2 linked regions of the Homo sapiens genome follow. The protein of the gene in region 1 interacts with the protein of each later gene in a pairwise test. Each region holds a gene or a part of one and is shown on either strand. Other genes may lie near its edges. The genes, in order: CTU1 and URM1.

Region 1 (7,964 bases):
GAGCCTATTCCAGGAAGGGAAGTTTGCAAGACATCTTGCAAACAGGATATGGTAGGTGATAGAGAAATATCTATCTGACTCCTAGAATCCTAATTTGGATAATGATGATGGTTCCATCACTGAGAAGGGGGGAAATGTGGTTGTCTGGGGCTCAGAGCAGATTGGGATGAACAGCATGGTGTGCAAGACATCGGGGGGAGCCACGAGAAGTGCAGAGAGAAGAGAGGGTGCGAGGAGGAGCTGTGGAAACTCACATAAAAGGCTCCTGGGATGAGGAGAACGAGAGACAAGGCCAAAGAGAAACAGAGGGCCCTTCAGAGAGTGTTGCCAACAGAGAGTCTTTCCTGGTGCCTCCTCTGGCCAACAAAGTTTATTAGCACTGCTGTGGGAACCCAGGCAGACCTACCATTTAGTAAGGAGATGCAAAAACTAACAAGAAGGCAGTGGGACAGAGCTGGACTTAGGGCAAAATAAGGACTGTTTGATACACTACAATGAAAACAGACAAACCAACCAACCACAGACAAAAATCCCGTTCCTCAGTAGGCTCCACGGGTGAACGAACTCTCTTCATGCAGAAATTCTACCCAGGGAAGCTTCTAGCCCTTCGAGGGGTGGGGAAGCAAGTGCTGCCAGTAACAAGCACCAGATATAGGAAATGGCCCTCAGAGATGCACATTGATGCTGCAGGAACCAAAGCTCCCAGAGCTGGAGAGAGACAGCTGAGCCCAGCCACCATATCTTCCACCAGACGCGGATTGCTTAGGATGGCAGCTAGATGACCTGGAGATGGCAAGGCATTCTGAGGCTGGAAGGGTGTGCAGGGACCAGATCATGCAGCACCTCCGTTGCAGTCTGCAGAGGTTTGACAATGGAAAGCCTGATGGCAATGGGGAGCCATGGAAGAGTTTCGAGAAGGGGAGAGACAAGGTTAAATCTGGGGCTAGTGTGGGAGGATTCAGGAATGAAGGGATTAGAGGTTGGGGTGAGAGAGTCCAGGCAAGAAACGGCCGGCGCAGTGGCTCACATCTGTAATCCTGGGACTTTGGGAGGCCGAGGTAGGCAGATCACTTGAGGTCAGGAGTTCAAGACCAGCCTGGCTAACACAGTGAAACTGTGTCTCTACTAAAAATAAAAAAATTAGTTGGGCATGGTGGTAGACACCTGTAATCCCAGCTACTCCGGAGGCTGAAGCACGAGAATTGCTTGAAGCTGGAAGGCGAAGATTGCAATGAGCTGAGATCATGCCACTGCACTCCAGCTGTGGTGACAGAGTGAGACTCCATCTCAAAAAAAATAAATAAATAAATGAATAATTTAAAAAAAAGGATGAGCTGAGCCAAGGCAGGGCCACAAGGATGAAGGGAATGGTCTGAGAAACTTTCAAGAAGCAAAACTGGCAAGTTTCACTGAACAATGGGGAGCAGTGGGTGAGAAAAAGAGTCAGCGAAGTGATTCAGGATCCTCACCTAGAGGCTGAAGCATGCCAGTGCCACCACCAGGGGCTAACTGTGCAGGTCCGAGTCTCGGGATGCAGTGGAGATATGCAGGAAAGTGGGGAGGCATCAGGGCAGAGACGGAAGTTGCGGGAGTGGCAGGAGTGGATGAGCTCACCTGGGGAGTTTGCAGAGAAATGACAGCGCTGTGGAGTACAAGGCTCCTGGCAAGTTGATTGACATGGTTTGGCCAGAAAGAGGACCAGGGAGGGTAGATTTTGTGGTCAGGGCAAAGAGACTCAGAAGTAGGTAGAGCCCAGGTTAGACCTTTATTTGTCAATAAAGAGGCCACTGGTGTTGATCGGGAGACTGTGTTAGGGGAGACAGGAAAGAAACCAGACAGCAGAGGGCTGGGAGTGAGAGGGCTTCTCATGGCTGACCTCACCTCTTTTCCCATCTATCTCTGGAGCCCCAAATATCCCACTCTTATCCTGGTCCCACAGAGGAGAATGGGGAAACTCTATACACCCCGATTCAGCATGCACTCCCACATTGTTGCAGGACAGAGGCTGCCTCTGAGGAGGAGAACTAGACAGTGGGTGGGTGGGGGGAGACGACAGGGAGACTTCACTGTAGAGTCTATGCACTGTTTCCATTTTATAGCATTTAAGTGCATAACCTGATTAGATAACATAAATTGCATTCAAACAAAAGGCACCCTGTGCTTTCTTGCCACAAGATCTTTCTTTGCTCAGGCGATTTCTTCTGTATTAAAAGGCCATTTCGACCCTCAAATTCTCAACCTCCTTTGCCACACTTCACACCTCTTCCAGGAGCAAGCACAGCTTGGAGACTAAGGAGACAGGCTTTGAGCAAGGAGCTACAAACCAGAGACCACCAGCCAAATCGGGCCTGCTGCCTGTTTTTACATGGCCCACAAGCTACAAATGATTTTACATCTTTAAATGGTGTAAAATCTTCAAAATTCTTCAAAAGAAGAATATTTCCTGACACATGCAAATTACATGAAATTCAAATGTCAGTGTCCATCAATAAAGTTTTATTGGTATACAGCCACCCTCACTTGCTTATCTTATATCAATGGCTGCTTTCAACATACAACAGCAGAGTTGCCACAAAGACCCTGTGGCCCACAAAGCCTAAAATATTGGCTACCTGGCCCTTTACAGGAAAGGTTTGCAACCCCTGCTGTAGAGTCAGGCAGTCCAGGGAAGTGACATCACTGAGCTTCAAGATCCTCACCTAAGTAGAATTACAAGGCTGGGCATGCTGACTCACACCTGTAATCCCAGCACTTTGGGATCACTTGAGGTCAGGAGTTTGAGACCAGCCTGGCCACTATGGTGAAACACCGTCTCTACTGAAAATACTAACATTAGCCAGGTGTGGTAGCGCACCTGTAATTCCAGCTACCCAGCAGGCTGAAGCAGGAGAATCACTTGAATCCAGAAGGTGGAGGTTGCAGTGAGCCGAGATCGCGCCACTGCACTCCAGCCTGGGTGACATAGTGAGACTCCATCTCAAAAAAAAAAAAAAAAAAAGAAGAAGAAGAATTACAGTTGTACCCAACTCATATGTAACATATAATCTTAATGTTATGAGAATTGAGATGAGAATAATAACCACTTGTTGAGCACATACTATGTGCCAGAAGCTGTTCTAAATTCTTTAGAGGTGTTGTTAATTCAATTTGACTTCGCATAAATCCTATGAGGCAGGCTATTATTGCCCCCCTTTCACAGATGAACAAACTGAGATGATGCATGGCACATAGCAGCCTTTGTTGAATTTTTTTTTTTTCTGACACCCTGGCTGGCAGTGATTGAAATTGAGCTTTCAAGGCTCTTAACACTTCCATGTCAAGCTTTATCACTCCATATTGACTAAGTCCCTGTCTCCCCCACCAGGAGGACAGGGTGGTGGTGTAAGGGGTGGGGGATGCTCAGAGGACAGTAACCAAGTCTGATTCATTTGTGTCACCTAAACCTAGCCCAGGGGCAGCCTGGCACAAGGAGACCTCAGGAAATAAATTCAACAAATGAACCAACGCACACAGATGAACAGAACTGGCCCATGATAAGGCTTAAGAGTGACCTCACGGAGCTCATTTAATATGAAAGGAAGGCATCATGGTTTCCTGTTATGGGGGAAAAAAATGGGCTACAGGGTGCATGGGGTTCCTTCTCACGTCATCACCGGCCGTAGACCTACACATCCTGGGGCTCTCTGCACATCTCCACATCTCAGTCTAAGGCTCTGGTGGTCCCTTAATCTAGAGGATTTTTTTTTTTTTTTTGAGACAGAGTCTCACTCTGTGGCCAGGCTGGAGTGCAGTGGCGCGATCTCGGCTCACTGCAACCTCTGCCTTCTGGGTTCAAGCCATTCTCCTGCCTCAGCCTCCCGAGTAGCTGGGACTACAGGCGCGCACCACTACGCCCAGCTAATTTTTGTATTTTTAGTAGAGATGAGGTTTCACCATGTTGGCCAGGATGGTCTCCATCTTTTGACCTCGTGATCCACCCGCCTCGGCCTCCCAAAGTGCTGGGATTACAGGTGTAAGCCACCGCGCCGTCTAGAGGAATTTTGAGCCTCAGTTTTTTCGAGGACCTAGGTTTGGGGACCTGGATCTCAAGGGTCTCAGATATCTGAGTCCTTAAACTCCTTGTGCCCCGGTATTTGAGTCACCGGGGTCTTCAAGACCCTTGGGCCTTGTGGGGAGGGTGGAGGCCTCCAGATCCCTGTGTCTAGGGTGCAGACGGTTGTCTCCAGGTCTACTGGTTCTCTCAGGTGCTTTGGTGCCAGGGGTCTGCGTTTTTAACCCCCTTAGTCTCAAGGGTCTGAGTCTCTGAGCCTCTGGGCTCCTGGGTTAGGTGAGAAGGGTCTTTGGATCCTTCTGTTTAGAGTCTGGGTCTCCAGCACGCGCATCACGACAGCCCCCGCGTGCGCGCGGAGTTCCACTCCAATCCTCGAAGTCTGCTCTACGCATGCGCTATCTGCGCCTTTTACACTAGCGACCAACCCCTGCAGTTCCACCTTCAATTCCCACCCGCAACCCCGCCTCAAAGGGCAGAAATCATAGGCCCTGTAATCCCCTTAAAATCCTATAATAATCCCACAAAATCAGTTAATCAGAATACAACTACTTCGCCCATCCAGCAACCTGCCGGGTGACAGCGCGCTGCCATGACAACAGTACACGCAGCTCCGCCGCTCCCTGCGGCCGCGCGCAGGCGCAGAAAGTAAACGCGGGGGGAGGGGGAGCAGTGTATTTTGGGAGCGGCAGAAAGAGCAATGCAAGTGTTTCTGGGAGTTGTAGGCCAAGCGGGACCCCGGAGCCGTAGGCGCATCCAGCGGAAGTGTCGCATGGGCTTCTGGGAGTTCTAGGCAAGAAAGCCCCAAGACCTTATGGGAGTGGTAGTCTCGGAGTCACTTCCGGGCCAGGCTTCCGCGTGGTGGGCAGTGTGGGCATCCCAGCACTGAGTTCTGCCCGGGTGAGTATTTCCTCCTGCGGTGGGTCGGCATGTGGACTCCGGCTCTTTGTTGCGGTGCCGTGGGAGGGTTGAGGGTCTCTTCGAGCGTAAGGCCTCTGTGATTTCCCAGCGCCCGTGTCCCTGAGGCCTTGTAGCCAGGATTCCCACTTTGAACGCTGCGGTCCGGCCTGTCTCTTACCGGGCCACTCCCTTCCCCAAGACAGGATAAGACCATCTGCTTGCCCCCGCCCCTATGTTACTATCTGCCTGTCCCCGCCCCCATGCCACACATTATCTGTCCTTTTGACAAGGCTGCAATCCAGAGGCATCCCTGGGGTCCGCGGCCTCTCTTCTGGGAGCACTTATTATTCCCTCATCCTACAGATACTTACTGAGCACCGACTCTGCGCAGGGCGGCGGGAGCGAGGGCACCAGACCAACCCTGTCCCTGCCTTGAAGCAGAGAGACAGACCTGTCACCAGTGACAGCTAGTCAGGATCAGGGCAGCTCTGAGGGCCCTGGTGGAGGCGCTCGACTCAGTGACGAGGGTCCATAAAGTCTTTGAGGGAAGACGCTTAACATGCATGTCAAACCTGACGTGGCCAAATGGAATTCCTGGTCTTCTCACCTCACAAAATGGCCCCACCGTCCCTCCAATGCTCAGGCCAGAACCTCAAAGTTACCCTTCATCACTTTCTCTCGTCGTTGCCCCAGTCCCCACTCCAATCAGTCTTATACAAGTCCTGTGGGCTCCACCTTCAAAATAGATCCAAAATTTCACTTCTTCCCACCTCTACTGCCAGCACTCCTGTCTAGTGTGCTGACCTCCAGCCTTCTGTCCTTGTCCCTGACAACCAACAGTCCTCCCCACACAGCAGCCAAACGAATCCCACTTTTTTTATTTGAGACAAGGTCTCACTCTATCACCCACGCTGGAGTGCACTGGTGCGATCATGGCTCACTGCAGCCTTGACCTCCTGGGCTCAAGTGATCCTCCTGCCTTGGCTTCCTGAGTAGCTGGTACTACAGGCCTGTGCCACCAGGTGCAGCTAATTTATTTATTTATTTTTTTAGAGATGGGGTCTCGCTATGTTGACCAGTCTAGGAATCCTTTTAAAACATGCCAGATCATACCACTTTACTGTTCAAAAACCTCCCAAGGCTCCCATCTCCTCCTGAATAAACCTAAAATTCCACATCATGGCCTATGAGGCTCTGCTAACTTGTGCAGCCTTGTCCCCTGCGAGCGTCTCCCTTCCTCAGGACGTGGACCCCCCAGGACTGGGTGACTGTAGATTTAGGGGGTGAGGAGAGATGAGTCCAGGGTGACGTTACGTCCTGTCCTGCAGATGGGCTGGATGAAAGGTGGTGGCTGCTCTCAGAAGAGAGGGAACAGATGGGCAAGAACAGGTTTCTGCCTTTCGAGGAAGAAATAGGTTGTCTGGGCGCTTAGGGTCTGAACATCTTTAAGGTGCCCCAGCCATGTGGAGGACCAGCCAGGAGGGACATCTGAATATCATGATTCAGAGGCGCTCATAAGAATGGAAAGAAGCTGGGCACAGTGGCTTACGCCTGTAATCCCAGCACTTTGGGAGGCCGAGGCGGGCGGATCACTTGAGGTCAGGAGTTCAAGACCAGCCTGGCCAACATGGTGAAACCGCATCTCTACTAAAAATACAAAAAAAAAAAAAAAAATTAGCCAGGCATGGTGGTACACGCCTGTAGTCCCAGTTACTCGGGTGGCTAAGGCAGGAGAAACGCTTGACCCTGGGAGGCAGAGGTTACAGTGAGCCGAGATTGTGCCACTGCATTCCACCTGGGTAACAGAGCCAGACTCCATCTCAAAAAATTAAATTAAATTAAATTAAAAATCTTTAAAAAATGGAAAGAGATGGGTGCTAGGCAGGACCTGAGGACATGAAGAGGCGTCCCCAAAAGAGAATTGAGCAGGAAATCCAGGAGCACAGAAGGAGTGAGTCAAAAGTCGGGGGAAGAAAGATTCCAAGAGTTGCTGCTCACCTGTGACAGATGTTCCCGACGGTCACTGCAGATGAGTCCTAAGGGCTGCTTCTTGGGCTCAGTGGCAGGAAGAGTACTCAGGGCAGAGGGGAGAGCCAGTGCAAACATCTGGAGCAGGAGTATTCCTCAGGTGTCAGAGTAAACGACATCAAGGCTGAAGGAGAGGAGGTTGGAGAAACAAGGAGCCACACATGTAGGGCCTCATCGGCCATTAGCAGTTATTATACTAAAGTGAGATGGGATCCAGGGGAGGATGCTGAGAAGATTCAGGGCATGATCCCACTGGCTGTTATGTGAAGGAGTGTTTGTAGAGGAGGCAAGGCGGGAGCAGGAGACCTGTGGGGAGCCCCATGCAGCCGTCCAGGAGAGAGACAGACCAGACTAGGGTGCTGCCGTGGAGACGGTCCTAAGTGTTTGGCTGTTTTGAAACTACATTCAAACAGGATTTGCTAAATTTCATTTAGGTACCTGGAGTTTGAAAAGGTCCGGACTTGGCATTGCAGTTTGGTGCCACCCACTGGGAGCATGACAAGTGCAGTGAGAGAAAGAGCAGTCCAGGGTCCTGGACCCCAAAGCTCCTGGCCTGAGCAGCTAGAAGGATGGAGCTGCCCTGTACTCCAGGAGAAGCACGCTGGGTTAGAAGAATCAGGAATTTGGGTTTTGAGATGCCTATTAGACATCTGAGTGGTACTGGTCTCTGCCCTCATAGAAGTTAGAGATGGTAAATATATAGTCACATAAAATAATTCCACACATTGTGGTAAATCCTAGAAGCAGCGTGACCTGCTCTGAATGGCAAGGAGGTGACTACAGTAGTCCAGGCTGGAGGTGATGGTGGCTTGGGGAGGAGAACTGAGCCTGGGGAGTTTTTATGGGTTCACCAGGCAGGCAGGACCAGGATTTGACTGGAGGGTTGGAGTCTAGGCTGGGTGGGGAAGAATGAAGTAGGAAAGATAACAGATGAAGGTCAAAGATGGGCCGATCCATGTCTTGGTGAGAGCACAGAAGCTTGTGGGGC
Region 2 (4,425 bases), on another chromosome or scaffold:
CGCGCACAGAGACGCCGGTCCCTGCCACCAGCGCCGCCATCCGCATCCTCGTCCTTCTTCCTTCTCTGCGGGTGACCAGTCCCGGCCGGCAGGGTCCTTCAGTCGATCGCGTCGTTTTTCCTCCTTTCAAATTTCGGCCGGAACGAAGCCGGCACGCAGCGGCGGGGCCGAATGTGGTCCGCCCTCAGCCCAAGCCGCATGAAGTCGGGGGTGAAAGAAGAGGCCGGCCGAATGCGCCCGCTAACTCGTTTCGCAGTTGTTCTAACTTATCACCCCAATACTCCCTACCTAAACAAAACAAATCCTCAACCAACCCCTAAATCCCAAACAAACCAACCCCTCCCGCAAGCCCCTCCGGACGGACCGATGGGCTGAGCCTCCTCCAGCCGCTGCCAGGGTCCGACGGGCAAGCGTCACCAACGATGCGCTCCAGCCCGGCAATCTCCTCGGCTTTGGAAATAGAATTTGGAAAAACGAATCCTTTTCATTAAAGAAAAATCTTCGGAGATAGCGGGGTTTTATTTGTTTATTTCCTCAAAAGCAGGGATCAGGAGTTGCTTGGGAGAGGGGCAGTTGGGAGCTGCTGGGGGCTGAGCCCAGGTCACCTGTCCCCTGACCCCTTTCCAGTCTAGGGCTAAAAATGACCTGAAATCGTCTGGTGTGCCTTGGACATGGCCAATTTCAACCACAGTGCTTGCACCCCCATGTGCCAAGAAACCCGGTTTTCCCAGCACCTCCTCCTGCCCTACTCTTCAGTATTAATTGGGGTGTGCTGGGAGAAGGGATATTCCACATCACACCTCCCACTCTCTGCAGCCAGGGAAACGGATCCTAGCGCCCAGTTTCCAGGACCTGAAATCTAGTGTGTTCCAATCAGGTGCACTGATGGGGCCGCTCCTGCAGCTCAGGGGGCTGCAGATGGGGAGGGACCTCCAGGTTACAAGAATCGGACAGGCTGACCTTCTAGAAGTGCAGCTGTAGGGAGCTGTTCCAAGTCTCTTGCTCTGTTCCCTAACATGGAGACCCTGACCTCAGGAACTAGTGAGGGTTGGTCACACAGCCTTTCTGGACAGCACTCAGACCCCAACACTGGCCTTAATTTGCACCCAGACCAGCTCCTCCCCATAGTCCCAACACGGCTGCTCCCACTCCACACAAGCCCAGAGGGTCTCTACCTGCAGTAGTCCTGGAGAAAAGCCCACCAGCCAGCAGGTCATCTACCCCCAAAAGAATGATGTGCACACCCCATCCCCCAACACTGCTGGGACAACCTTTTGCCACTTTCATCTCCACAGGGTGAGAGAAATTCCACCTTAAATTATTGACATAGAATGAAAAGCAACATTTTGGGTGGGATGATGCTTTTGGTGGGATGTTAGCACCCTAATTCTTTTTGGGGGTCTCCCTCCAGCAAAGCTCTTTTCTCTAGGTCATGGAAAGGAAAGACCACAGAAAGGGGGCTCAGCAGTCTTATCTATGCTACCCTCATTTTGGGTTCTGAGGCTGCTGGCTGCAGCTGGTGGGACAAAGCCTTGGACAGACGGGTGGGGATGCGTCCCGGGACACAGACTGGTCAGCACAGACTGGCTCTGCCACTCCCTTCTCCAGATGGCTCTATTAGACTACCCCCTCTCAGATTGTCTGAGTGTTCACCCCCACCCCTCTTTTGGGTGAAGGGTAGCTCTGAGGCCCTAGGCTGAGGATGGAGAGGTTGTATCACAGACCACGGCTGGGGGGATATGAGGTGCCACCCGTTTCCAAGGATGAAGCTCCAAGCAAGGCTAGTAAACAACCTAGTCTTTTATTTGCCCAAGGCCGGCTGTTGCAAGCACTGAGGCCCCAAGACTTCCAGAAGGGAAGGGGAGGAGGGGCAAAGCACTGTGCCTACCAGGTGCTGCCTGCCCCGTCCTGCTTCCTGCAGGAGGTGGGAAGGGAGAGAAAACGGACATTCGCGCCATCAAGTATCTCCCCAGTTTTCAGCCACTATATTCAGTTGTGGAGGAGGAAACTGAGGCACACGCATCCCCCCAGGCTTCTACTTGCTAGTCCAAGGTTTAACTTACTCCCTCCCCTCATCTCTACCCCCAGCAGAATGAGCTGTAAGCAGCCTGGGGAGGGTCTCAGGAGCCCATCTGGTGGCCTGTGGAGCGGGGCAGGCCAGCCAGGGTCAAGGGCTAGGGGTGGGGGGAGCAGGAGGGGTGTGGCTGGAGGAGCAGCTGCTGGCGGTGGGGGGAGTCGGCACTCAATAGGGGACCCCAGCTGGGGTTCCATACTGATAGCAGTGGGGGACAGGCAGAGCCCTCAGCTGTACAGACAGGGAAATTGAGGCTGAGAAGCCTCCAGTCTTTGGGTAGGGAGGGGCCTTCCTTCAGCTACTCAGGTCCATTCATCTTCCCCATGAAGACGCTGGCTCTGGGGCTGGAGCGCCTTGTCAGCGGCCACTCCATGTTTAGACTGAGGTACAAGGAGTGGAAGGCAGCCAGGTCACCTGGCCACAGAGCCTCCTTCAACTCTTGACAAACTGGAGGGGAACCCTCCCCCACCACAGCTGCTGGAAAAGGGAGTGCTGGGCTCTGGCGCCTGTCTGCCTTCCGCTGCTCACGTGCTTGAGAAAGGCTCATTTTTAGCACCTGGCCTCTTTTCCCTGCCTGGAGGGAGCTTAGGGGACAGAGCAGGGAAGAAGGCAGGCAAGGGGGACAGGGAGACCTGGAAGCAGGGCCCAAGGGGATGTCTGATTGCTTCGTTCTCCCCTCTAAGGGTGCCCAGGCCCAGAGAAGGGCCCTCAGCCGCCGTGCAGAGTGGAGATGAAGAGGACGCTGTCCTGGTCCTGAAGCTGGTAGTCCAGCTCACCCTGGTGCGGGAGAGAGGGGAGCGGGAGACCCTCAGGGCCACCTTCCCAGGTCCACCCCAGGAGTTGGGAGAACAGGGGCTGAGGACTGGCTGCTCTGGAAGAGACAGACTCTACCAGAAAAATGGGTATCCTATACCTCAACCTGCAAATCTTCAGGATGGAGGAGTACTCCCATGTCCCCAGCTACCCATCCCTTCCTCACCTGGAGTGGGAGACTCCAGCAGCCTCAGTGTGGGGCTGGAGTGGGGCGGAGGATTACCCAGCCACTCTATATGTGCCTGAGGAGAGGCCCAACGCTTTCCCACTGAAGCAGCAAGGGCAGGGGCTGGGGGAGGGATGTCCCCCAAGGTACTGACCAGTAGCTCCCAGTCGGCATCGTTAATCAGCACCAGAATTCCTGGCCGCCTGTGGGAAAGATGGTGGTGAGTAGCAAGGAGTGAGAGGCAGGAGGCAGTAGCACAGAGGAAGAGAGGCTGAGAGCTTTGGGCTGCAGGAGAGTGTGCTGAGGAGCCTTCCTCCTGGGGTCTGGCTAAAGATATCCCAGGAAGGGGAGGCTGGTCTGAGTGTGAAGGAAACCAGGTCAGTCATGCATGGTCTTTGTAGCCAGATGGAAAATGGGTGCAAATGCCAGCCAGCACCACCACCCAGACCATGGGCAGGTCATTTTGTTTCTGAGTATCAGGTTCCTCATCTGAAAATGGGATAAGTGATACTGTCTAACCCACAAGGCCTATACGAAAACGAAATGAGCTGATATGTGTGGAGTGCTTGCCACACTGTCATGGTAACCATTAGTAGGACTTTTCCAGGGGTCTAATCTTATTCTCGTTAGCCCTGGAAAAGAACTTCGGCTTTTTTTTAGGCCTCTGCATGCCCATCCTGGAGAGAAGGCTGTTTTGCCTCTTCCGAATCAGTTGCCATGCCACATGGCAATGCTCACGTGCAGTCCTGCCTGGCATAAGGCAGGGTAGGTCAACATTTGGTCAGGCAGCTTAGCCTGGCTCCCACTGGTAATGGCCCAAGGAGCACTGCTGGCCTTAGAGGTGGCCTCCAGGACCACTGGACCATGACCTGAAGGAGGGCTGATCCCCTAGGCCTGATCCCTTAGGACCTGACAGTGACCTATGCTTCGAGGCAAATAAGCGAGCCTCACAACTGCACCGGCCACCTTTCACGTGGGGGACTGGCCTTGTTTTAGAAGTAACTTCGTGGCAACTGGAACCTGGTCCTTTCCAAGGAGACTGCACTGGGCTTCTATGGGGTGTCCCCAGTGAGTGTGTGTGCATGTGCATGGGTGTGTGCACGCACAGAGTCAATGACTCCTTGGAATTCTAGACCCGTGCTGCACTGTATGGTAATCTACTAGCTGCATGTGGCTATTTAAATTACAATGAAATAAAACAGAATATTTAGCTCTTCAGTTGTACTAGCTACGTTTTTTCCTCAGCACTTTCTGTGTAGAGAGTAACTGAGGCCCAGAGAAGCGAAGTAAGTCGCCTAAGGTCCCACAGCAAGTCTGTGGCAACCAGAGGGCAGAATCCAAGTTTTCTGAGAAATTCACCAGGCTCCTTTCA

What was found.
Region 2: the proteins of CTU1 (region 1) and URM1 interact in binary tests that used the Homo sapiens proteins (3 or more experiments, as listed by UniProt).

Annotation. Positions count from the first base shown.
Region 1 is NC_000019.10:51,105,331-51,113,294, reverse strand, and holds the start of CTU1 (cytoplasmic tRNA 2-thiolation protein 1), read left to right. Parts: upstream 1-4,885; 5' UTR 4,886-4,948; intron 4,949-7,964.
Region 2 is NC_000009.12:128,388,092-128,392,516, reverse strand, and holds the end of URM1 (ubiquitin-related modifier 1), read right to left. Parts: exon of another isoform or gene 3,257-4,425; coding exon 3,208-3,256; coding exon of another isoform or gene 3,004-3,207; exon of another isoform or gene 2,852-3,003; coding exon 2,783-2,851; 3' UTR 501-2,782; downstream 1-500. UniProt on the Homo sapiens protein: Acts as a sulfur carrier required for 2-thiolation of mcm(5)S(2)U at tRNA wobble positions of cytosolic tRNA(Lys), tRNA(Glu) and tRNA(Gln). Serves as sulfur donor in tRNA 2-thiolation reaction by being thiocarboxylated (-COSH) at its C-terminus by MOCS3.